Linked DNA regions of Homo sapiens: regions 2, 3 and 4 are each reported to be linked to region 1. The links are microRNA targets in miRTarBase. Many come from high-throughput screens and were not tested one by one. Region 1 holds a microRNA gene; each other region holds the end of a gene's coding sequence.

What was found. The annotated mature microRNA hsa-miR-4659b-5p reads UUGCCAUGUCUAAGAAGAA and lies in region 1 at 1,765-1,783, opposite strand. An mRNA with a match to its seed (bases 2 to 7 or 8) in the 3' UTR can be bound and repressed. Matches are read on the target gene's strand: a 7mer-m8 pairs with bases 2 to 8, a 7mer-A1 pairs with bases 2 to 7 and ends in A, and an 8mer does both.
Region 2: the mRNA of RRAGC is a reported target of hsa-miR-4659b-5p. Seed matches in the 3' UTR shown: 7mer-A1 at 720-726.
Region 3: miRTarBase lists ADCY7 as a target of hsa-miR-4659b-5p. Seed matches in the 3' UTR shown: 8mer at 1,891-1,898.
Region 4: the mRNA of MVK is a reported target of hsa-miR-4659b-5p. Seed matches in the 3' UTR shown: 7mer-A1 at 5,224-5,230.

Annotation. Positions count from the first base shown.
Region 1 is chr8:6,743,449-6,749,560 of GRCh38, forward strand. It overlaps MIR4659B (microRNA 4659b), which reads right to left and starts at 1,792; the gene lies at 1,720-1,792. It overlaps AGPAT5 (1-acylglycerol-3-phosphate O-acyltransferase 5), which reads left to right. Exons shown (of 8, transcript NM_018361.5): 6 at 4,222-4,380. MIR4659A (microRNA 4659a) reads left to right here and starts at 1,716; the gene lies at 1,716-1,796. RefSeq lists enhancers at 1,007-1,286, 1,317-1,396, 3,009-3,058, 3,660-3,954, 4,877-5,026 and a silencer at 2,819-2,868.
Region 2 is chr1:38,833,961-38,840,072 of GRCh38, reverse strand. RRAGC (Ras related GTP binding C) reads left to right here. Exons shown (of 7, transcript NM_022157.4): 7 at 369-1,875. The coding sequence ends at 520. Among named protein-coding and RNA genes, the nearest start is that of RRAGC, 23 kb to the left of the region's middle.
Region 3 is chr16:50,313,030-50,319,141 of GRCh38, reverse strand. It overlaps ADCY7 (adenylate cyclase 7), which reads right to left. Exons shown (of 26, transcript NM_001114.5): 22 at 6,106-6,112; 23 at 5,080-5,184; 24 at 4,736-4,850; 25 at 4,004-4,128; 26 at 1,007-3,783. The coding sequence ends at 3,637. It overlaps BRD7 (bromodomain containing 7), which reads left to right. Exons shown (of 17, transcript NM_013263.5): 17 at 1-3,185. Among named protein-coding and RNA genes, the nearest start is that of MIR6771, 23 kb to the right of the region's middle. RefSeq lists enhancers at 1-48, 4,511-5,710.
Region 4 is chr12:109,596,346-109,602,457 of GRCh38, reverse strand. MVK (mevalonate kinase) reads right to left here. Exons shown (of 11, transcript NM_000431.4): 11 at 4,333-6,032. The coding sequence ends at 5,881. Among named protein-coding and RNA genes, the nearest start is that of MVK, 26 kb to the right of the region's middle. RefSeq lists an enhancer at 3,241-3,930.

The DNA of each region.
Region 1 (6,112 bases):
TACACTCATATTTCTTGTCTTGGTAACTCCATCATTCAGTTTTTTTGCCTAAGTTTTATTCACAAAAAGAACAAATTGATAGCAGTTGCATACCTCTTATAGGAAACTTAGACATGGAGGAAGAAGCTGTTCAGATGGGGTCCTGCAGAAGTGCAGGCACTGTGGTAATATTTAAACTTTTCTCAGCTGTTCGAAGGGTTTTGTTTTAACTAATTTTCCTTAGACTTGTTTTAGGTATTTGGCTTTCTAATGGTTATAAGGGATGTGGAATTAAATGTATCTTAATCTGCCACCTGGACCCATTAAAGTAAGCCCCTATGGTGGTTTTTTTTTTTTAATTGCCATGGTTAAAACCATAGTTGCTAGCGAAGGTGACATACTTAAGCTTTTTGAACTCTCTTAAAAGAAAACAGAAATTTAATGATGTGTCTATAATGGCAAACCAGATACCTAGAATTTCCATGTTATTCATAGGGTGAATAACACTGGCGATTGTAGAGATTTGAGAGTTCTTTCAAAACAGGAGAACAAAGGGAATAAGCTACAAAGCAATTTTTTTCTTTGTAGACTTAACTGAATAAAAATTATTTTTATGTCTCAAACATCATATGAACAAATTTAGTTGGCAAATGGCAAGCTAATAATATTTTATAATATAGGATATTAATATACTTAATATTACAAAAGTGCTTCATAATTAGAAAAGACATAAACTAGAAAAATGGGAAAAGGGCATGAATAAGAAATTCAAGAGATACAAATGACCCACACACTTGAACAAATGTTTATTCTTTCTCATAATCAAAGAAGTAGAAATTAAATGAATACTTTGAAGCCAACTTCTGAGAAAGCATAGCAAACAAGAAAGCTAGTGCTCAGCTTTGTGTGGTAACGGCACTCTCGCTCTTAAGAAGGTGTGTTTGCTCCCTGTGGCTGCTCTCAGGCAGGGCCACAAACTTGGTGGCTTAAAACACCACAGATTTCTTCTCTTACATTTGAGAAGTCTGAAATGGGTCTTACTCAGCTGAAATCAAGGTGTTGGCAGGGCTGCAGTCCTTTGTGGAGGCTTGGGGGGATCTTGTTCTCCTGTACGGGGTCCTGTGCTTGGTTCGGGGTCCTGTGCTTGGTCTGGGATCCTGTGCTTGGTTCGAGGTCCTGTGCTGGGTCCAGTGCTCTGCTTTTACCACCTTGAAGTTCATCTGGAAATGGCACTGGCTCGCCCACACCATATAGCTGACTCTGGTTCTCCCTCCTCCTCACTCGCTCTAAACCTGTGTTTTTGGCTGATTTCTAATCTCTCTTTCCTTGGCCCTTCTGCAGCTTGCAGGGCCTTCTGCAGCTCTTGTCTGCCCCAGCCCCGGGGTCTGCCCATCCCAGTGCTGGGCTGTTCTGTTCCTGCCCTGCCTTTCCTCAGCCCTTGGCAACCCTGTTTGTTTTCTCCCTTCCTTAGCAGTGGAGAACATCGTAAGATCAATGCTGACTGCCTTCTGCAGCCAAGCCAGGCCATTTCATTTCAGCCGAGCCAAGTCTGTGTGGAGCAGTTCTTTTATTTTTCTCCTTTTGACTACCTCATGGTTTTCACGGATTTTTGTTCTCTTCACATTCAAGGATTTTTTGCTTTCAGAAAGTTATATTTCTCTGGAAAGAGTGCACCCAATATCCCTTTTGATTTCAAAATCTTAATGTGGAGTCTCTTGACTTGGATTTCTTTGGAAGAAACTGCTGAAGCTGCCATGTCTAAGAAGAAAACTTTGGAGAAAAATTTTCTTCTTAGACATGGCAACGTCAACAGTTTCTAAGCTCTTGATTCCGTCTACCCTGTCTCCATCGTTGCCTCAGTCATCTGCCTTACTTCTCTGCAGGGGTTTCTCCCAGCTTGCAAATGTACTCCAATTCTGAAATAACTAAGTCTATAGCTGTGCAAAGAGAAGTCTGGGCCCCTTGCTTTCTTGTGTTTGACTCCATCCACTCTCCAGAAATGAATCCCACTTCTCACTTAACCACTGACCTCCAAAGCATCGTATCATTTGTGTCAGTTGTCATATTTGTTAACTTTCACATAACTTTTGACATTATTTATACCTTTATAACCAGGAAATAATTTTAACTTTATTGTAGAAATAAACAATGGAGTATAATTTTTCTTGTTGAAGATAAATATCACCTCCTCTTCCTTTAAACATCTCTTCCCTTTGTTTTTGTATTACATTGGTTTCCCCCCTTTTTTTATTTCCTGGGTTGTCGTATTCCCTGTTATTATTTTTACCTTTTTTTTTTTAATGTGGATGTTTCCGGAGTCTGTATTTCTTGCCTTTTCATCTTCTGCCCTTTATTATTCTCAGCCACTGCCATTACTTCAGTTATCCATTCCCATGGTTTCCACATGCTTAGCTTCGGTTGATTCTTGCCATTTTACAGACCATATTTCCAACTACTTCTAGAATGTTTTGTTCCTTCAGCCTCAGTATGCCCAATTTGAACTCATGTTCTCTCTCCCCCTTCTTTCTTCCTTCTTTCTTTCGCTCTCTCTCCCTTCCTTCTTTTCTTTCCCTCCCTCCCTTTCTTCCTTCCCTCACTCGTTCTCTCTTGCTTGCTTGCTTTCTCTCCTCTCTCTCTTTTCTTTCTGCATTCTTCTCCCTCCCTCTCTTCCTTCTCTCCCCCACTCCCCAACTTCCAGGCTAAAGCAGTCCTCCTGAGTAGTTAGGACTACAGACATACACGTGCCACCGCGCCCGGCTCCGTGTTCTCTTTGTTTCCCTGCCTCCTGCTCTTCCACTTATCTTTGCATGGCAGGTGGGTGCACGCAGGCATGCTCTGCATGTCTTCCTCTTGGCCATTCCCCTTCTAGTTATGGTGTGGCTTTATCTACGCGTTCTGGAGCAGAAGCCTAGTCACAAAGCTATTTTTTTAAAACATTCATGATAATTCATTTCCTTTTATGTTTTAAAAATACTAGCTTTCTGTCTTTATTTCCTTACTAACTTACTTGGATGCCAGTAATTAGTTGTTTTAGTGAACACCACAGAGTGATATTTTGAAACTTTGGACTTCATAAAGTTGGATGAGCTCCAGTAGCAAAGAAGGAAGTGTTAACTAGTTTAACTGACAAATAAATGCTTCCCAGCTTGGTGTGCGATTGAGATTTTTGTTGCAAGTTTGTGAATCAATTTAACTGCCCCTGCCCTGGGGACTAAAGTCAGATACGTGCTTGTGGGAATCTTTGTCTTTCCCACACCACCCTGCATTTTAAAACCTCTTGTGTGGGACAGTCCCACCATGTAATAGCTGTTCTTCCTTACTCAGCTACTTTCCCTCCAGAGAGGCCAGTAGAAAATCTAGACTAGTTTTTTATAGTCTATTTTCATGTCACTTATTGAGAGCTACTGTTTTCTGTTAAATTGTCAGTAAATATTTTAATCAAGGAAAAGGGAGGTAATAGGAAGGAGAGAAGAACAAATCCTTAACCCTAGTAGGAACCTAATGAATGGGATTTGTTCTGGATAATTGCAGTAGTCCCCCAGCTAAAGAACCTTTTAAAAATATGTCAGATATACCCAAGAGGATTGAAATCGTATGTTCATACAAAAGCTTGTTCACCTGCAGCCTTCATATGCAATTCCTATGAATGTTCATAGCAGCATTATTCATAATAGCCAAAGTATGGATGCAACCCAAATGTCCATGAAGCAATTAATAGGTAAACAAAATGTGATCTGTTCACACAGTGGAATACTAACTATTCAGCCATAAAAAGGAATGAAGCACTGAGTCCTGCAGCCACACAGATGAACCTCAGATCCATGCTGAGCGAAAGAAGCCAGAAACAGGAGGCCATGTGCTGTGTGACTGTATTTCTAGGAAATCTTGAGTCACCATGGGCAAGATGCTATCACCTTTGTTCAGTGGCCAGAAGCGAGGGCACTAATATTTACCCTTGCCGGGGTCTACTAGATTGAAGCGTTTCCGCTAGGCCATAAACTTCCAACACGGTGACTTGTACATGTAGATATTTGATCAATATATAGCAAATGAATATTGATTTAAACAGAAAAAGGCAAGTGAGAGTGCTTTCTAAACTTAGAGCCCTAAATATATGAGGTTGTGGAATTAATAGATTCTGTTGTGTGTGTTTGAGGGAATTTAAAAATAATTTAGATGTTAAACAGTATATTGTGGAGGTGTTTTGTAACTAATTAATGACGGCACTGAATTGACTTCTAGGCCTTGCAGTATTAAAACATGTGCTAACACCACGAATAAAGGCAACTCACGTTGCTTTTGATTGCATGAAGAATTATTTAGATGCAATTTATGATGTTACGGTGGTTTATGAAGGGAAAGACGATGGAGGGCAGCGAAGAGAGTCACCGACCATGACGGGTAAGTGTGTTCACGCACCTGAAATGCCTGTACACGGTATATACAGTGCACATGTTTATGTAGAATTCAGTTTTACAAAGTAGGTTAAGTGTACTTTTTTCCTTCATTACATTTACCCGGTATATTTTTCAAGATGTTATTAAGATGTAACAGTGGAGATTTCATTAGTCCTGCAAAGTGTGGTATTTCTTGGCTGTCGTGTGAGTCCTGTGGACTCACCAATTATCATTAATCCAGCCTCTTTCTACTCAAAGTTCACACTTAAAAGGAAAGCTCTGTAAAAGGGAGGAAGACGTGAAGAAGGAGCACGCCCGGCAGTACTGAGTGCACGTTATTAGTCAGTGCTGCCCTTTTGCTGTATTTTTCGTAAAATATTTATTAAATTTGGGTGTCATTGTGACAAGAAGAAATGCAGTTAAGTGTGACCTTTTTTTTTCCCCAAACATGTTAGGTTTTAAGAACCTTTGAGCTATTGTCAGATATAACCAGAAAAAAATAGAATTTTAAGTGAGCAGGATAACTTAGTTAAACTAACCAAACATAGTGTTAGCTGTTAGAGAAATGTAAACATGGAAATAGGCAAACAGGGAAGTGTGTGGAGTTTCTGTTTCCTTTTCAAAATATCTGTTTGAGCTGGGGTTGAGAGAGAACACTAGGCTTCATGGGGTTTTTTTGTTTTTCGTTTTTTGTTTTGAGACAAGAGTTTCGCTCTGTCGCCCAGGCTGGAGTGCAGTGGCGCAATCTTGGCTCACTGCAACCTCCGCCTCCCACGTTCACACGATTCTCCTGCCTCAGCCTCCTGAGTAGCTGGAACTACATGCGTGTGCCACCATGCATGACTAATATTTGTATTTTTAGTAGATATGCGATTTCACCTTGTTGGCCAGGCTGGTCTCAAACTCCTTACCTCAGGTGATCCACGCACCTCGGCCTCCCAAATGAGCTTTGTGTTTTTACCTCATCAGCTGTTTGGGGTTGAGCCACTATGTATGTCAGTGTGCTTGTATCAGTAGGATCTACTGAGGGCAGATGTTCAAAATATGAGCCTCCAGCACGTTTTACATGGAAACCCTCACCTGAAGCATTCGTCTGAAGTTGATGTGCCTTGGAAATTTTATAGAGTAATATTTTTAACTACAACAAAACATTTATAAAAGTAGACATTATTAAAGCATTCAGAAGTGAGCAAGGATAGAAATTATTCTGCCCAACCTTACACGTAGGCCTTCTAGACGTAGTACTGTGCACCGTTACATTATCTAACACTGTCTGTGTGTCATCTTTGGATGTTAGGGATTTTTCCAAAGTTCAGTGAGATTATAGTTGTCAAATGATTAGTCTGTTAAATAATGATAAGATGAGGGTCACTCAGGTTTTAAAAGAAAAGCTCTTTGACTGAAAGAGAGAGCAGCTGTCTACTGCAGAAAGTTAGGGAGGGAGGCTGGAGGAGTGAGGCCCAGGGGCTAGCTAGTATAAAAATTGGTTATGGTCGAAGGAAAAAAAAATGTAACATATTTATATCTGAAAGATGATTGTTCTCATAATTGTATATAACACAGAGTAATTGTAAAGTAGAAAACTAAGGTGTTTTTCATTTTAGATGTAAATGTTTAGAATATGTAATGCATCAGTTTAAAAATTAAAACTGTACGAAATGCACAGTGAAACGTCTTCCTTGCTTTCCACCCTGCTACCTGGCCTTCCCTTCTCCTTCCTAGCGATAACCAGTTTT
Region 2 (6,112 bases), not on the chromosome of region 1:
AGGTTCACGCCATTCTCTTGCCTCAGCCTCCTGAGTAGCTGGTACTACAGGTGCCCGCCACCATGCCCGGCTAATTTTTTTTGTATTTTTAGTAGAGACGGGGTTTCACCGTGTTAGCCAGGATGGTCTTGATCTCCTGACCTTGTGATCTGCCCGCCTCGGCCTCCCAAAGTGCTGGGGTTACAGGCGTGAGCCACTGCACCTGACCGATGACCAGCTGTTCTTACGATTGAAGAAGTTGCTATCTAGTTTGGAGGCTTAAGAATTTCCAACCAGTGTTTATCCGAGTTATTTTTGGCTGCAAACCCAAATATAAAATTTCACAATTGACAATTCAGGAGGCATTCTTTTCTTTTTCCTTCCTGCAGGTTTAATAGACTACAACTTCCACTGTTTCCGAAAAGCTATTCATGAGGTTTTTGAGGTGGGTGTGACTTCTCACAGGAGCTGTGGTCACCAGACTAGTGCCTCCAGTCTGAAAGCGCTGACACACAATGGCACGCCACGAAACGCCATCTAGTCTGAATCCCAGCGTCGGGGCTCTGTGCCAGCTTACTCTTCACTCCAGGGTCGGATGCCACGTGCTACAGGACATGGGAGCTGCTGCTTGTGGGAATCTGGTGCCTGTTCCACTAGAGACAAGGGGTAGAGTTTCTCATTTGGATGAAAACCCCTTCAACTGGTGGTGTACAACTGAAGCTACTATATCTTTTTTGAAAATGGCAAAAAAAAAAAAAAAAAATTCTGGAGACCACAGAACTCAAGTGTGTGTTTCTCCTCTTTTGGGTCCCCTTTAAGTAGTTGGGATATTTTGGACCTGGAGATAACACCAGTTACCCATCCTTACCAGGGAATGTTGCCATCAATTCCAGTTGAAAATAATAGAAAAGACTGAATTTTTATATGCTTCACTTAGGCTTTCATTTGAGTAGACTCTAAAAATTCTGCCTTGCTTAAGTTCTAACACTGCCTCTCAGATTTCAGTTTTGGACATTGCACAACTAAGACCTTTTAAATGCATTTGCTTGCTAACTCGGAAGACACATAGTCTGCAGCAAGACATTCCTATATTGAAGAAATGAGAGAAAATTTTATGCTGCATCAGGTGGAGAGCAAGGCTCAACGGTGGTTGCATTAGTTCCCTCGGAAGTATTGAAAAAACTTTGAAATGGAAGAAAATTTTTGCACCTATGTTCTGAGTACCAGATGTCTGGGTTCTTTCTTCTGCATTAGATAAATGATCATGCTCAGTGTAACAAAGGGAATTAAAAGTTTTCCCACAGTCCCCTTCTAGGGGAGAAACTCATTGTGTCACTGAAATGTTTAGCTTACTTTAATCTTGATATCAGCCTCTACAGACCTTTTATTCTAAGCTATCGAGCTTCTTGATTGCATTTGGTTGACCACGAGTGACCCTAAGGCATTGGGGGACTGTCCACTGGGAGTTGGAGTGAGCACGTGGTGCTGCAACAGGCATTGTTTTACATACTTTGTCTCTAGTATTCTGACACCAAGTGTCAACTGTGGTACTTTCTTTGCCTAGGATATGAATTCATAATTGTTGCTTTTGTTGATGGTTGATACCCTTTCCATTGATTTAAACCTAACACATTATTTCTATTCCACATGCCCAGTAGACATATATTCCAAAGCCACTGGACCACTTGAGTACATAAGTGCCACTGTTTAATGCAATATGTATATTCAGGTCTGTAAAGCTAACAGTGTGACTTGGAGTGCTTCCTGCAGGTGATTCTGACTTGAGTATTTACATGGACCATGGTGATATCCAAAAGAAAAATGCTTTTTATATTTATAGATTATTTCATTGAACTATATATGAAATGGGTATCAATAAATGTATTTACTCCAAAATCAGCGTTTCTCCTTGCCTGAGGTATGGAGGGTGGTGGCGGAACGTTGGGTTGTCCCACTTTGCCGTTTTCTCATCCATTTCTTTTTCTTTTGCTGCTTCCTGTGGTTAATGTTTCTTATGTGTCAGAGCTTCAGGTTCTATCCCGATGTGGGAATTTCATGGCCTTGTGTCTAGGTATCTCCCCTGGCCCATTTCTGCTCTAGGGTAGTAAATCTAAGCTCAGGTGAAAATGTTTTTGGTTGGGTGTTTCATATACACAAATCTCACACATGGTGGGGAGTATCCTGGTCCTGGCATCATTAATGTGTTAATCCAACCTAAGAAGGAGTGAGGAGATGAGTGAAGTAAAACACACTTAAACAATTGTACCGATTCCAGCTTGTTTTCTGTTTCCTCCAGTTGCTGACATACTCATTGACTCACTCTTAAATGTCAGTTAAATAATTGTTTGTCTATACAAACAGGTTGGGTCTAAACTAATCAGAGAAAAATAGACATTAGTTTATCAGTGGGAGGAAGACAGATTGAAAGATCTTTAAATTTTGTAATTGGACTACTTTAGAAGCTGTTTTAATTCTGAAATGGAAATCACAGAAACAGCTTGAAAAAACTCTTGTGAAACTATCTAATCCTGTCTTCTTTTTCAGATTTTGGAAACAGGTGCAGAGGGATAAGGAGCCTTGTTGAGGCTGTAGCTAGGAAGACTGTATAACTTAAATTCCAGATACTGTTGAGAGTGGAAGGGATGCCATTAGTAAGGATGCCTGAGCAGCAGGTGTGAACTGGCACTGTTGAGGGTACACTAAGGGTGGCCAGCCTCATCATAGATCTAATTAGTGGCAAAACAGGGCTTGTCCTCCAGGCCTGGCAGCCCAGCGTGGCATGCCTTTACTTGCAGCCTCCGGCCTTAGGCTCCCATTGGTTAAATGGAGAGAATATTTCAAGATGCATGTGGTACATAGATGCCCAATAAATGTTATGTTTTCCTGTTACTGAAAATTATAAATTCAGTCAGTGATTAAGGAGAAGTCTTTAATTGTGAAATAGAAAGTAAATGTGAAAGGAGACAACTCAGGATGAAGAAAACGGAGAATAAAATGATCAGGGTTTTGCTTGAAATGTTTTGCATCCCAGTGGATGTTGATCTCTACCAGTCTACTTCAAAGAGAACTAGGACAGATGGTTAAAAAATACCTTAAAGTCTTAAGCAGCAAGGTATTTTAGCTATTTCACATACCACCACCTCTCCCATTCACATTCATATATACACACACATACATATATGCATGTATATAATATCTCAATATAGAATGCTGGAGGTATTTGGGAGTTAATTTACCTTCTACATCTTGAGTTCTGTGTGGAGAAATGATTTAAAAGATAAAATCAAGCATTGTTGGAGAAAGCACTGTGTGTGAATTTTGGACTTTGGTAAGGATCTCTATCCTTTGTTTTGCAAATGCTGAAAGCCCTTCCAGTTATTCAAAAGAGATTATTAGTACCACTGTTTTCCATCTAAGCTAGTAAGTAAGCTAGTTAGTTTAAATGCTCCCCCTGTCCCTCTTGGGGGTCCCAAAGGAACATAGTCTGTAAGGGGAATGTGGACAGCAGCTGGGCATAACTGGAGAGGTTTTTTTTTTTTTTTTTTTTTTGAGACAAAATTTCGCTCTTGTCACCCAGGCGGCTGGAGTGCAATGGCGCAATCTTGGCTCACCGCAACATCCACCTCCCGGATTCAAGCGATTCTCCTGCCTCAGGCTCCTGAGTAGCTGGGATTACAGGCATGCGCCACCACACCCGGCTAATTTTGTATTTTTTCGGTAGAGATGGGGTTTCTCCATTTTGGCCAGGCTGGTCTTGAACTCCCGACCTCAGGTGATCCACCTGCCTCGGCCTCCCAAAGTGCTGGGATTACAGGCATGAGCCACCGTGCCAGGTGAGTGTTATTTGTTAATAGTAACTTCCCGGAACGGTACATTAGGATACTTTGGATACAAATAACATCCAAGAAGGACTTGAAGGGAAAGCCAACCACCACTAATTATTTTAGGTGGTTTACGTGTATTACCTTGTAATCTTCACAACTCCTTGGGAAGTAGGTGTTATATTCCTATGTTACAGAAGGGGAAATAGATACAGAACGGCTCAATTGTAAAGTGGTAGAGTTAGAATGGGAACCCATGCAGTTTGATTCCATAACCTGCAGCCGCAAACTACCACTCGACCTTCCTTTCCTAGTAGGGAGGGCGAGTTTGCTCACTGGTGTGTTTTGAAAGAAAGAAAACAACAACAACAACAAAAGGATTCTATAGTTAAGTTTTGGAAACTTGCAATCTGTAGTCTCTCTTTGGAGATTTTCTACATACAGTCAAATATGAAAGGTTCTGAGAAGACCTGCAATAAGGAAGCCTGTTTACCTTGGTTTATATCCCATGTTCCTAGGTTTATTTGACACATTAAAGAAATGCATATTCATTCAATCAGTGTGTAATAAATTCACAGTTTTGAAATGTTTTCATGAGATTGGAAGTATGATTTTTACACTGTTTTCCAAGTATCTTAATACAACCATCACCAAACTGGTTTCTTGGATGGCTAGTTCAACACCTGTCTTTGTAGGTAGTGAGCAGGAAGCATATTTAACTACTCTGTAACATTTCCTCAGTATCTTTACTCATTTAAGCCAGATGTGCTGCGAAGCACAGGCAGCTTGTCTACCTTTTCAGCCTGTTTGGTGATGGTGTCCAAGTCCTTAGTGTATGGCCTCTAGGTGGCAGTGTTGTATTATCTAAACACAGCTTCTTGCTTTCTGGCTTCTGCATGTGTGCTCTGTCCTGAAAGTTTGTATTGCCCGTATCACCTAAGTGCACACCTAACTTAGAGATCCAAAAAATTCCTGAAGTATTTTCCCTAGGATAACATTCAGGACTGATTTGAGACATCTTATTGGAAGTGGAGCAGTTGATGATTTCCACTTTTTAGTGAGGGGTTGGGTAAAACGAAGGTCATTAACATCATTTGCTTTATGTATTACTAGTTACAAAAGGGCCTTAAGACAGCTGTAGCCACATTCCTATAGCAGGCAGAACTTCTTGCTTCCTCTTCTAATCCATCTGTTGTAAATGTGTGTGGTCTTCAAGACTCCATGGAAAGAAATGCCACATATTTGAATTAAAATATCTGTTTTCACCACTTTTCTTTGTGTCAAATGAGGTTTGTTGAAATTATTTCACACTTATGCTTGAGAGATAAAATATGGCAAAGGAAAAGGCTGCAGAACCTTATCCTTCCATGGGTACTTATTTTTCCTTTTTTTTTTTTTTTTGAGACAAGGTCTTGCTCTGTCATACAGGCTGGAGTGCAGTGGCACGATCATAGCTCCCTGCGACCTCAACCTCCCAGGCTCAAGCGATCCTCCTGCCTCAGCCTCCCGAATAGCTGGGACTACAGGCATGCACCACCATGCCTGGCTAATTTTCTTTTTAATGTAGAGATGAGGGTCTCTCCATGTTGCCCAGGCTGGTCTCAGACTCCTGGGATCAGGCAATCCTCCACTGCCTCAGCTTCCCAAAGTGCTGGGATTACAGGTGTGAGTCATTGCTCCCAGCTTGTTTTTCTTTCTTCTAGAGCCATGTAATTGCTTCACAATCCCCAGCTGTGACTTTGCTCTGCAAAGACAAATTTTAGTGTAAAAAGAACTAGATACACCAGTGCATCTTCAGACCTGTTTAAAATATAATTGAGAAAATTGCAAAGGACTGTTATAATGAGGAACTGAATGGCAGGAAACTAGTTGTTCCTCCCCACACTTGAAAATGCCAGTTACTACCAACGTGTTGCCCGCAAAGTGCTGCAACTTCCACTTTAAGATTCTTACACTTTAAAATGCATCTTTTGAACTGATCAAATATATATATTTGTTATTGTGTGTTTTGTTTTGAGATGGAGTCTCACTCTGTTGCCCAGGCTGGAGTGCAGTGGCGTGATCTCGGCTCACTGCAACCTCCACCTCCTGGATTCAAGTAGTTCTCCTGCCTCAGCCTTCTGAGTAGCTGGGATTACAGGCGTGCACCACCAGGCCTGGCTAATGTTTTGTGCTTTTAGTAGAGATGGGGTTTCACCATGTTGGCCAGGCTGGTCTCGAACTCTTAACTTCAAGTGATCTGCTCGCCTCGGCCTCCCAGAGTGCTGGGATTACAGGCGTGAGCCACCACACCCAGCCTGGACTGATAAAAT
Region 3 (6,112 bases), not on the chromosome of region 1:
AGATATTAAATATTTGTAAATTGTGTTTTTAATTAAACTTTGGAACAGCGAATTTGGATGTTCCAGAGGTTGGACTTGTATTAGGTAATAAAGCTGGACCTGGGACTCGTGAGGAAGGAATGTGCTTGGGGCTGTTGCCATACCTGTGCAGCATTCTTTCAAAATAGTGCCTTCCAATGCTTCTTCCTTATGTCCCACAGACAGGATCATCACTAAGAAGCGTTCTTAAAACGGCCCCATCCAGTGAGATTTTCCGTTATACGAACATACTTGAAATAATTTTAGAATTTACTACTGTGGTTCTGCCCCTGCATACCCAGTGGGAATGATGCCCTTGTATGGGTAATTAGGCACCTCCCACCCACCCCTGACAAAAGCACACTGGGAGTTTTATAGCACTGTCACATGGCTAGTGTTCTTTTTTGGTTTTTTCCGTTTTTTAAAGAAAGAGGAGTTACTTAGTACTATAGCAAAGTAATAAGCCAAATAAGATAAACTAAGTCATCCTTGAATAGATCAGGGAATTACCAGATTACCAAAAGGTGACATTTCTACTTTACTTACTGTTTATCTGAAATACAAAGGTCAAGTACCCAAGGAGTTGAACTCTAAGTAGGAGACCACAAGATTCATGGCCCCCTTTTATCAGCAAGCTGAGATAAATGGTGATTTTGCTGAATCGGTATAGAACCTGTTATACACAAGGGAAAAAAATCAGGATGGAGATAGATAGATAGATAGCCTTGTTCAGTGAACAAATTAAGTTTGAAGGCCCTTATACAATCCTTCTATAAATCACCCAGGCAGGAAGCCATTTGATTTCTATTATTTTCCTGACTTTGAAAATTAATTAGTATTTAGGAAGAACAAATAGGGTAAAGGAAAATTAATTCCCTCAAAAGACTTAAAATCTTATGCTAAAAGAGTCAAATTTTCAAGTTGTTTGAGTCTACTTTTAATCTCTAGTGAGTTCATGAGGACCACGAAAATAAAATACCTTCAGATATTTGAGTTTTTCAAATTGCTAATTTAATGTATAAAAAGCAGCTAAACACTGGTACTTTATAAAAATGAAACAGCATTTTGAAACAAATGTTACAGATCTATAAATATTCATTATATAGAATAAACCCTAGTTACTTGCATGCACCACCTCAAATCATATTTCTTTACACTGACCTATTATATACACAAAGTATACAGTGGTTAATGATCTTCTCTTCTGTTTGTTTGTTTGTTTGTTTGTTAGGAAATTTCCTCAATAAGCCAGAAAACCTTAGGTATTATTTTCACAAAAGTTAACTCAGGAGAAATTGTAAGGAAGTCCTTGACCCATGGAGAAGGTCACTGTTTGTTTGTTTGTTAGATACGTGTGTCTGTCATAAAACAAAATGACACCAGTAATTACTTGGTAATTTAAAAACAAGTTCATAAAAAGAAAATACCTGCAGGTAATTTTTATGGTCAGTTATATTCTATAACCTGAACACTGAAAACTAAAAACTTTTACTTACAAACTATTATTATCTGAGCACAGCACAGTGCTTTGCTTTAATTGGAAATAAAAATGCATGAGTGAGTGGTAGTCAGTTATTTGTTAAACTCCCAACTGGGGTTTCTGTTGTTACTGAAGAAAAAAACAAATATTCCAAGAGTACAAATATGCTGACCTCAGAGAGGCCCAGTGCACTAATGTGTTTCTATGTTATATTAGCAACAGAAACCTTCCTGACTTGCCAGGAGAGCCCCCGCCGGGCAGCCCTGGTCACTGCTAGATCTTGAGAGCACAGATTTCAGTATAGTATTCATGTGAAACCAGCCCTTCATGTAAAAAGTTTTGGTGTGTAAAAAAGGCAACTTAAGCGAGGCTAATTGCCCTTACCAGCATTGTTGCCATGAAATTCCTTTATACAGCAAGTTCTTCTATTCATACTGATTCCACTTATGTGCAGCACATGAGAGCTGCCACTAGTCTACCCAGCACCTTTGTGCAAATTAGAATACACCTGCCCTTCCTCGGGCTGATAAAGCCACACGACACAGCACAGGCAGACAGGTTCAATTTTCGTTCCCTCCACCGCCACCCCCGCACTTAGCTGTACTCTTAATTTGCAGCCCGGGGCAACTCATCCCAGGACCCCAACAAGTCTGGTCAGTCACCCAATCTGCAACCCTGTATAATCATCTTGTAAAGGCTCCTGTATGCAAGACTTTGTGTAGAACTTTACGGGGTTCATGGGGACACCTAGCTAAGAATCCCTGCTATGTAGGGAAACTGAGTGCATTAGAAATCCTGGCGATGCTCTGGTGATGAGGCCACCGGTTAAGTCTTCCGGTTATGAAGTCCATTCAGAAAAAGTCACGGGCAGTTTGGTCATTTCTCACCCTGTTGTTACAGTTAGGTTGACTTTCAATTCCTTGGGAAGTTGAAGCACAGTAAGACACATCCCCAAAACCTGGCTTTTTGCATTTGCCTTGACTCACGCAGTTTCAGAGCAAGAACGGCTCAGCATTTGTGAGGGGGCGGGCTTCCCAGATCCAGGAGCCTCTGCATGCACCCATGCGGAGTAGATCCTTCTAGTTTTGAAGCTCTCCAGAGTTAGCTGTGAAGACTAAAGGAAAGAAGAGATGCACTCACAGGTTGTCCAAGTTGTCTCTAAACAGACTCCATTCCTTTCTGGTAAGAAAAGTAAGATACAGTTGAAGGACGGCAGGGGAGAACGCAAAGATGTGTGAGTAATCAAGGAAGAGGTGAAAGGCCGCACCTTACTTTCAAAGCACCTCTCTCCAGAATGCTTGCCTCACAAGCTGCCTCATTCAAAGGCAAGGCTCTGCTGCTCCCCGCCTTCTTGCTGTGACCACATTCCTCAGGACTCTATCCCCACAGCCAGCTGACCCCATAAGCTGATGCTAGACAGTAGTCCTCCTTACATGTCAGTGGTTAAAAAGGCAGAGCATACACTGGAGGGAAGAGATTTATGTCTAGTGTCTGAAAAGTCATTCAAAAGGATAAAAACCCCATTAATGTATTCATTTAAAACAAACATGCCAGACAAGGCAAAAAGTAACAGTGTTAATTGTGGTGTTTTTCTCTCTACCTGTTTGAAACCGTTTACAGATGTAAAACACCCCTTTCAGCTTCATTTACCAGAATGCCTCTGTGAGAAATGCTGTCATTGCCAGGCCCACCAGGGAGAGGGAGTCTCCAATCCGTGCTAGACAGCTCAGCTTACTCCCCCTTGGTGTCTAGAAAAACAGACCTCACTTGTGCGTGCCCACAGGCCACTGAGGTGGAAGTCTGTTTTCATCATGTGCTAAAGTTGCCTGCCTGGCACCTCAGGGAACAAAGATCTCAAAGTCAGCCCCGAACCAGTGAACATTCTCCAGCTGGCCTGGAAACTGTTACAGACCAGGCACAGAGCTTCTGGCCTCCCCTGCGCATTATGGCTCAGTGGCTGCTTCGAGCCAGAATCTGGTGCATGTGTCTGAGAAATCCTCCAGTGCAGGTCCAAAGAAGCCAACATGCACAGCCATCTGCATGCCTTTGGGATTGGCGTGGGGCGGAGAGTCTTCTCCTGGGCTTGCTTCAGGGAAGGAGACTGGCTTCCCGGCCTTTTCGGAATCCAGCAGGAGCCCTCAGTTCAGCCCCAGCCCCTGAAACTTGGCAGTGTCCGTACAGACAAAGTAAGTCCTCAGCTCGCCTTTGCCTTTGACGTTGATCAGGCCACGGCATTCACAAGAGTACCCGAGGCCCTGGAGGATGGTGCAGGTCTCCTCGGTAACCTGAAAAGGAAGAGAGACCTGTTGTCTTCAGAGGCGGGAAGAACACCTGTCATGGTAGGGACAGATAGAGACTGCCCAGGCATGCAGTCTGCCTTCCCTGGAGAGTGTGATAGCTAGAACCATGGCTGCTGGGTGAGACAGCAGCTCTTAAGTCCAAGTCCCCTCACCTCTGGGGAAGATCTTTTCCCCTTAGTCAACTGCTTCCCCAATAGGTCTTTACCTGGATTTTCCCAAGTTCTCCAGTGCTTTCCATTCGGCTGGCCACATTGACAGTGTTTCCCCAGATGTCATACTGAGGTTTTCGGGCCCCAATCACTCCAGCAATCACAGGCCCATGGTTTATGCCTGAAGATGATGTTTACAGTTACCCAAGCGTGCAGGCAAAGCCTCAAGCTTCTGCCCTTAGAGGAGGCCAGAGAATCCATACCCCAGCACAGGATGCGGGGACAAAACAACTAGAGTGAAGGCTGGGTTGCTTCCCAGAGTCACTGCGTTGCAGTCGGGCTTGGGGTATGAGGAGGGCATTCCCCGGCCAGCTCTTTTTCAGACTCAGAAGTCTGGGTTTGATGTTAACACTTGTATCTGCTAATCTCTCTTTTAACAAAGAATACTTTGTTAAAAGTATTAACAAAGGCCTGGCTTTGAGCGCAGGCCCGCAACTATTTAGGTTTAGTAACTTTGCTTCCTTCTCTATATTTTAAGGTCACCTGTTTACAGACAATAATTTTGGTTCTCCATTTTCTGTAGTTACGTATTATTAAAACTCTCAATGGTAACTATATGCTAACTATATGCAAAACATCAGAATAATTGTCCAACTGCTGAGCTTGTCAGATCAGAGGGATTTCTAAAACCTTTCATAATAGATGGCGAGGTGCAGCTGTGCCACACAGACTGGGTGGACTGGCCTAGAGGCAGGGGCTCCCCACCCCGCTCCATCACCCGGGCTCACCGACGCGGAGGCGGAAGGAGTTGAAGGAGTGCCTGTTGATGCCGTCCAGCTTACTCATCAGGGCGATGCTGAACTCCACCATGACACCAATGTGGGCATGCTGCCGCTCCAGCTCCTGCGGGACAGGCTGTGGGTCAGATCCTTGCATCTCCAGAGCCCCCAGACCTAGTGGGCCCTGGCGCGCCACTCTTGTTGAGGATCCCCACCACTAAAATCCTGGCTGAGCCCTACAAGTACCTGTGCCCCTCCCCCAGGACGAGATAAGGGCACACCCTTTAAGTAAGGTGACAGGTCACCTTTAAGTGAGGACAGTCAGCTGAATTTCACCTCTTGGGCTTGAGTACCTGGTTCTCGTGCCCTGAGGCGACGCTGAGCCCTGCAGCTGCCATGTACGTGCTGCCGATGGTCTTGATCTTCTCCACGCCGCTGAACTTGGGCTTCAGTAGGAGCTGCAGGCAAGAAGGAAGCGGTGAAGCAGCCGCCACTCCATAGCCGCAGCCAGGCTGCCCCTGCTTCTCAGGAAGGGTGTGGGGTTCCCTCCACCCATCGCCGCCTCTCGCACACACGTCTCATGGCTGCCCTGCCAGCTGAGCGCATGACTAAGCATGGTGAGGACATGGCCCTTGGCGGCTCCTGCTCTTCCTGTTGTCTCCGTCCCCACACTGTCTCCCTCTTCCCTTCCATCTGTGTCTGCACAGAGCAAACACAGCATTATCTACACAGGAATGTAGATTCTTTGTCTCCAGCAAAGAATTCAACCCAAACTGATTTCCTCTGTTTGGCTTGGTTGATAGCGTGGGCTTAGTTGGAAATGAAGCTAAGGGGCCTGAGTCTAATCTTAGCAAGCTGCCCATCACAGAGAAGATGCCAACGAATTATTTGCTGCATAAAACAGAATGAAAAAGAAATGTGTACCTTTATATTCTGTGTAATGTATGTTCCCCCCAGGCGGGCCACGTCGTTTTTTTTTTGTTGTTGTTGTTGTTGTTTGAGACAGAGTTGTGTACTGTTGCCCAGGCTGTAGTGCAGTGGCGTGATCCCAGCTCACTGCAACCGCCTCCCAGGTTCAAGCGATTCTCCTGCCTCAGCCTCCCAAGTAGCTGGGATTACAGGTGTGCGCCCCAAGCCCAGCTTGTAATTTTTTGTATTTTCAGTAGAGACAGGGTTTCGCCATGTTGGCCAGGCTGGTCTCGAACTCCTAGCCTCAAGTGATCCACCCACCTTGACCTCCCAAAGTGCTGGGATTATAGACCACCTTGCCCAGCTCTGTGTCACATTTTTAAATTGGGTTTTAGGATGGCAGGTGCCACCGCCCTTCCCTCTCCAGCATGGGTGGGGGCTGCTGCGCAAGGCTGGGCTAGAGGCTGTACCTCGTCG
Region 4 (6,112 bases), not on the chromosome of region 1:
TGGGCAACATAGCAAAACCCCATCTCTACAAAAAGTAGAAAAAGAAGCAGGGGGTGGTGGCGCATGCCTGTAGTCTCAGCTATTCAGGAGGCTGAGGTGGGAGAATTGCTTGAGCTTGGGAGGTCGAGGCTGCAGTGAGCTGTGATCTTGCCACTGCAGTACAGCCTGGGCAACAGAGCAAGACCCTGTCTCAAAAAAAAAAAAAAAAAAAAAAGGCCAGTGCCACATAGGCTCACATATTATTTATGGCCTTCACTCGACTTAGTGGGACTCTTCGTACCTTTCATATAGAGTCAGGGGTTGGTGGTGCTGCCCCAGATGCCACGTGGAATGAAACATGGGCCGGGAGGGGGTCTCCCTAAAACCTGCAAAATCCTCCATTCCACATCACATCTGGCCCCAGGATTTTGGACAAAGAATTGTGGTTCTGTTGTACCTGGTCTGCAGGGTTGCTGTGGGAAGTAAGTGGAATGATGCCTGAGGGGTTTAGCACCCTGCCTGGGATGTTACATTTGAGGAAACTGAGGCCGAGTTGGGGGTACAGAGGAGTCCCGGCTGGAAGTCACGCAGCCAGCAGGTGCAGAAGCTGGGCCTGAAGACGGATCTCTGGATTGCAAGTGCTTTTCCTGTGACAACCCTGCCGCATGGAGAAAACCAAATGGCAAGGAAGAGGACAAGGTGGCTCACTGTGTGACCTTAGGCAATCTCTTGCCCTCTCTGAGTCTTGGTCTCCGCATTCACAGCAAACGAGGTGATGGACTGTGTGATCTCCAAGGGTCCTCCTGACCCTGACACTTTTGGATTCAAGCAACTGAAGCATTCATTGGGAGACCATTGCCCTTGTCTGTTTCAGTTTTGAGGACATGAGGTGTGAGGTGTGAGGTTCGGCCCAGTGCCAGGTTTTCCTTGGATATGGGGAGGTGGGGGCTCCGGGCACAGTGCTGTGAGACCACACATCATGTTCTTTGGCAGGTTGCTCCCTTTGCCTGTTTGTTGTGTAGGTTGGGGGTCTGAGGTGTTCACAGCCAGGGCCAAGCGGGCAGCAGGGGTGAGCTGGGCCAGCACCGCTGGGGCAGATGTGACAACTCAGTTCTGTCAATTAGGTATGGTGGGGAGAGGGAGCTCGGAGAGGTCACCAGTCACCTCCCCGGGGAGAGTCTAGACACGGGCTAAGAGCAGGGCCCTGAAGTTACACAGAACTGCGTGCAAATCCCACTCTGCCACGTGACCCTGGGCAAGTCACTTCCCTACTCTGGGCCTCAGTTTACTCACCAACAGAATGGGGATAAGCACGGTAATTAGCTCAATGGACTGAAATGATTCACAGGGATAAAGCACACAAAGCACTTAGCACCATGCTGAGCACATCGTAGGTGCTCAGTAAAGGGTTCAAGACCTCCCAAAGCCATGTGGAGGGGCTGGATTCTGAATGACCAGTGTAGAAGACACAGCATTCTGCAGGATGATCCGCTGGGTCTCTTAAGCAAGTCATATCATGGAGAAAAATAGGTATGAGTGTGTGTGTGTGTGTGTGTGTGTGTAGGGCTGCTGTGCTAGATTAAAAGAGAAGCCAGGGCTGTAACAGCCAGGTATGTGGTATTAGACAGGGTGCCGGACACCTGGCCCAACTGGAGGAAATGTGACTATAGCCTGGGCATTAGAGATGAAACATATTGACAGAGAAAGGTGACTGGAAACCAAAAAGGTAGGTAACAAAACAGCATGTACAGTATGATCTCACTTTATCGAACAGCATGAACACACACACACACACACACACACACAGAGGGAAAGGTGGCAGCTGTTCACAGGGGTAATCTCTGTATGGTAAAAACACAGTGCTTTGATGTGATTTTTGCTAATCTGTATTTTCTTTCTACAGTGTATTTACACTGTTTCTGTAATAGTAAAAATATTATAATTTGAGAACTAAAGAGCTCAGACTAGGAACCAGAGCTCCTGGCCTCAAATCCAGCTCTCTGCCCCTTCCTAGAAGACAGTAGGTGCTAAGAGACAGCCAAAGAACTTGTCCAAAATTAGCTGGAAACCAGGAAGGGCTGGGGAAGGAAGCACCTGCGAGGTGCGGGCCCCTGAGCCAGGTGTCTTCCAAAGGGCGCTAGCTGAGGAAACAAGGAGGAAAACAGCCGTGGAGGAGAAAGGAGCTGGCTGGGCCAAGCACAAGCGAAGGGCAGGGCCGGCCCCCCACCACGCTTGCTGACCTGGAGCCAGCCAGCCAACGCGACTGGCTGCCAGCAGGCCACAGAAACCTTGGTGAGGAAAGACTCCTCACCAGGCCAAGTGTGGTGGCTCATGCCTGTAATCCCAGCACTTTGGGAGGCCGAGGTGGGCAGATCATTTGAGGTCAGGAGTTCGAGACCAGCCTGGCCAACGTGGCGGAAACCCTGTCTCTACTAAAAATACAAAAATTACCCAGGCGTGGTGGCACACACCTGTAATCCCAGCTACTTGGGAGGCTGAGGCGGGAGAATCACTTGAACCTGGGAAGCAGAGGTTGCAGAGAGCCAAGATGGCGCCACTGCACTCCAGCCTGGGCAACAGAGTGAGACTGTCTAAAAATAAATAAAAGGACTCCTCACTGACAGAGACGACATCAGTGCAACCATAGCAGCTACTCTGTCTGGAAAGAACCACAGTATTTCCTGCCTGCCTCCCAAAGTGAGACCCTTGCCAGAACCAGGGAAATTCTCTGAGAACTTCAGGCTGCAGACCCTGGGAGCGGCTCCAGCTTATGACCTGAAAGGCACTGCTGTTCCCCTCGCAAAGAAGGTGTCAGTGCTATGTGACCGCCTCTTTGCAGAGGAAGCAGGGAGGTGGGAAAGCCGGTGGGCCTTAGGTGTGTTTCTCCAACAGCGACCCAAGGGGTCTCAACCTAGGGGCTTTGGACCATCTGGGCAGGGCGCCTTGAGCCAGCTCTGTGCACCATTCTGAAGTTTTGGGGCTCTGGAAGACACCCTTATCTCTCAGCATAAGACAGTTATAATAATGAGTATTTATTGAGCACTTACCGTGTGCCACGCACTGTGTCAAGGGCCTTCTGTATATTTTCTCATTGATCCCCACGAAACCTCCATAAGGTGGGTATTAGTGAATCCCACTTTCCCGATGAGGAAGCTGTGGCCTCCAGAGGTAAGCTGTCTTGCCCAAGGTCACATGGCCAGGGGGTGGGCAGGGCTGAAGTGCTCAACCACCACAATGGCGTGCAGAGATGACCCTGGGGTCATCCAGTTCGGTATCTTCAGCCCTGGCTGCATTTTCTTATTTTTTAAAAATATTTTTGAGACGGGGTCTCACTCTGTCATCCAGGCTGGAGTGCAGTGGCACCATCATAGCTCACTGCAGCCTCCAACTCCTGGGCTCAGGCGATCCTCCTGCCTCAGCGTCCTGAGTAGCTGGGACTACAGGTGTGCAGCACCATGTGGTGCTTGGTCACACGTTAGAATCACCTGGGAGCTTTTAAAAGATGTCTTTTTAAAAAGATACCGCTGAGACAGATTAACTCAGAATATCTGGGGTGGAGTCAGGAATTCGTGGGTCCTTAGGTGGTTCCGAGGTGCAGCTCTGAGAGCGAGAACCACTGCAATAGGCAATGAGAAGGGGTGACAGCCGCAAGTGCCAACTGTCTACAAGGTAGCCAGGAGTGTGACACCAGGCCCATATGGTGGCCGCAGGGGTGGCTGGGTTGAAAGGTTGCTCTGGCCAAAGCGCACCGGCAGCTGCTTCACTGGAGCAAGAGTGTTGAGCTGGCCCCTGCCCCAGGAGTGACATCCTGTCCCCAGGGAATGAGAGAGAGAGGGCCTCAAGGAGCAGACGGGCTCTGGGGGTCTCAGCCTCTGTCCCCTGCACCCATCTCACAGCTGCCGCGGACATCTATGGAAGCCTGGGGAGGCTCCCAGGCCCACCTCCTAAAGGCTGGAGGCTGGCTGTCAGCCAGCGCCATCACTGAGGGCACAGCAGCCTCTGGCCTGGTTGTTCATTAAAATCGCGTGGGGAGGAAAACATGCAGGTCCGAGCCCCACCCCGGTCAAATACATCCGAATCCAGAAAAACGAGCCTGAGCACAGAAAGCTAAAAAATCGCAGTGAGCCTGCACACAGAGCCGCACCCAGCAGACACACGTAGGGGCTAAGAGCAGGCTCTGGAGTCCATTTGAATCCGGCCTCAGATGCTGATGAGCTGTGTGGACTTGCACCAGTTACTCGATCTCTCTGACCTTTGGTTTCCTGGTCTGTAAAGCGGGGATGAGACTAGCAATGACACTGAGGTCGGGGCAGAGATGAGAAGGGGCGATGCGTAAACACGCCTAGTCCACAGTGAGCGTTCAGTATTAATTAGTATTACTGCTTTATGCGTTGTGTTTTGAAGGGAAGGGGCAGGGAACAGCCATCAGTGATCTGGGGCCATTTCTACAAGTTAAGCTGGGGTAGGCGTCCTCCCTTCACTCTCACGTTCCCAGCAGTGATCCCAGGCCGGGCCCAAGGCTGGCGTGGGGGTGGAGCTCGGCTCCTGCTCCTCTCACCCTGCAGGAAGACAACAGCAGGGAAGGCCGCCAGCTGCCCCCTAGTGGCCAAGGGCAGACGCGCACTGAATCGCTTTCACCTCATCCTGAAATCCCTGCGCCGGCCCCCACCTTTCCACTCGGCCTCTTTGCAGGTCCGTGGGTCCCAGAGGTTCTGGCTGGCAAGGCACCAACTACAAGGGTTTCCTGATGGCTAATGGCATTTCGGAAAGCACCAAGCTGACTGCAATATAAAGTTCAAATAGGGCCGGTGGGGGGCGGGGGTGGGGAGTGCCAGGCACCCGGGCCAGAACATTTGAGTCTGTTTTCTCCATCCAGCCAGTTCATTTCAGAAAGGAAGGCGCGCCCCAGGAGCGATGGCAGGTTCTGCTTTCCTGTCTTACACAGGTCTGTGCTCTCGTGGGTGCTTGTGATTCTGGAGCTAGGAAGCTCAACTTCTCCCTCCGCAGCAGCAGCCTAGAGTTGTGCTGATGGACTGAGAGCCGTGTCCCAGTCCCTCTCCAGCAAGGGCCATCTGGGAAAAGCCACCTCATCCCCAAGACGCACAACAAAGTGACCCCAAACCCTATTTCCCTCCATTGCTGAAGAGCTCCATGGAGGAAACAGCTGGAGAGGGGACAGGGACAGAGGGAGGTGCTGGTGGCCTGGAGTCTCTACTGTTGACACAAAATCTTTTTATTCCCCATTTGCCATCTTTTCCACAAACCTCTCAGGTACAGATCGGAAGAAAGTGCATATAAACCCTGCCTTATTTAACCAGGCCCACCGCCTCCGGGACAGCCCCTGGGGGAGCCCCATCCCGCTAGGTAGAAGGGAAGGCCACACCAAGTGCTGAGTGAGCCACCCAGACAGCAGGTGCTCTGGGAGGGAGGGGCGACAAGGGGTAGGGGAAGGCTTCCTGGAGGAGGGAGAGGCCTGGCCCTGAGAGACAGGGGGCGGTCCCTGAAAAGGGAGAGAGAAGGCACACTTCTCCGGGAACCAGGCCCCAGCACCTGAGCATTGGACCCAGGCGGCCAGGAAGAACACAGGCCAAGGCGGGGGCCTGAAGCAGATGGGACTGTGGGAGCTTCAGGGAAGCAGCCCTTCTCGCCTCAGGTCTGGAGTCTCAGAGGACCCTCCTAGGCCTCCTGCTCGGCTGGCTCCAGAGGATGCAGAGGGCAGACCATGCCTCCCTAGGTCCCACCGCTGGGACTGCAGAGCTTGGCTGGCATCGCCAAGCGGCTGGGGCCTCTCCAGCAGTGTCAGGAGCTGGGCGCTCGCTGGCCAGCACAGAGTCGAACTGCAGCCCCCAGAATAATCCAGAAAGGGGCATCTGGGTGGGGCTGCAGTGTCGTGGGCTCCTCTCAGAGGCCATCCAGGGCTTGCTGGACTCGGCTGTCCAGGGAGGTGGCTGAGTGGATGGAGACGCCGGGGGCACCGATGCTGGTTTCCAAGCAGTCAAAGCCACAGCTGGTCAGGGCCTGCTTCGTGGCCTCCACTTCTGGCTGCTCCAGCCCTGCGGGGAGGGAAGGCAGGTCACCCTTGACAACTCTCCGCTCCGTGGGAGAAGCTCATCATATTCAAGGCAAAAGCCCA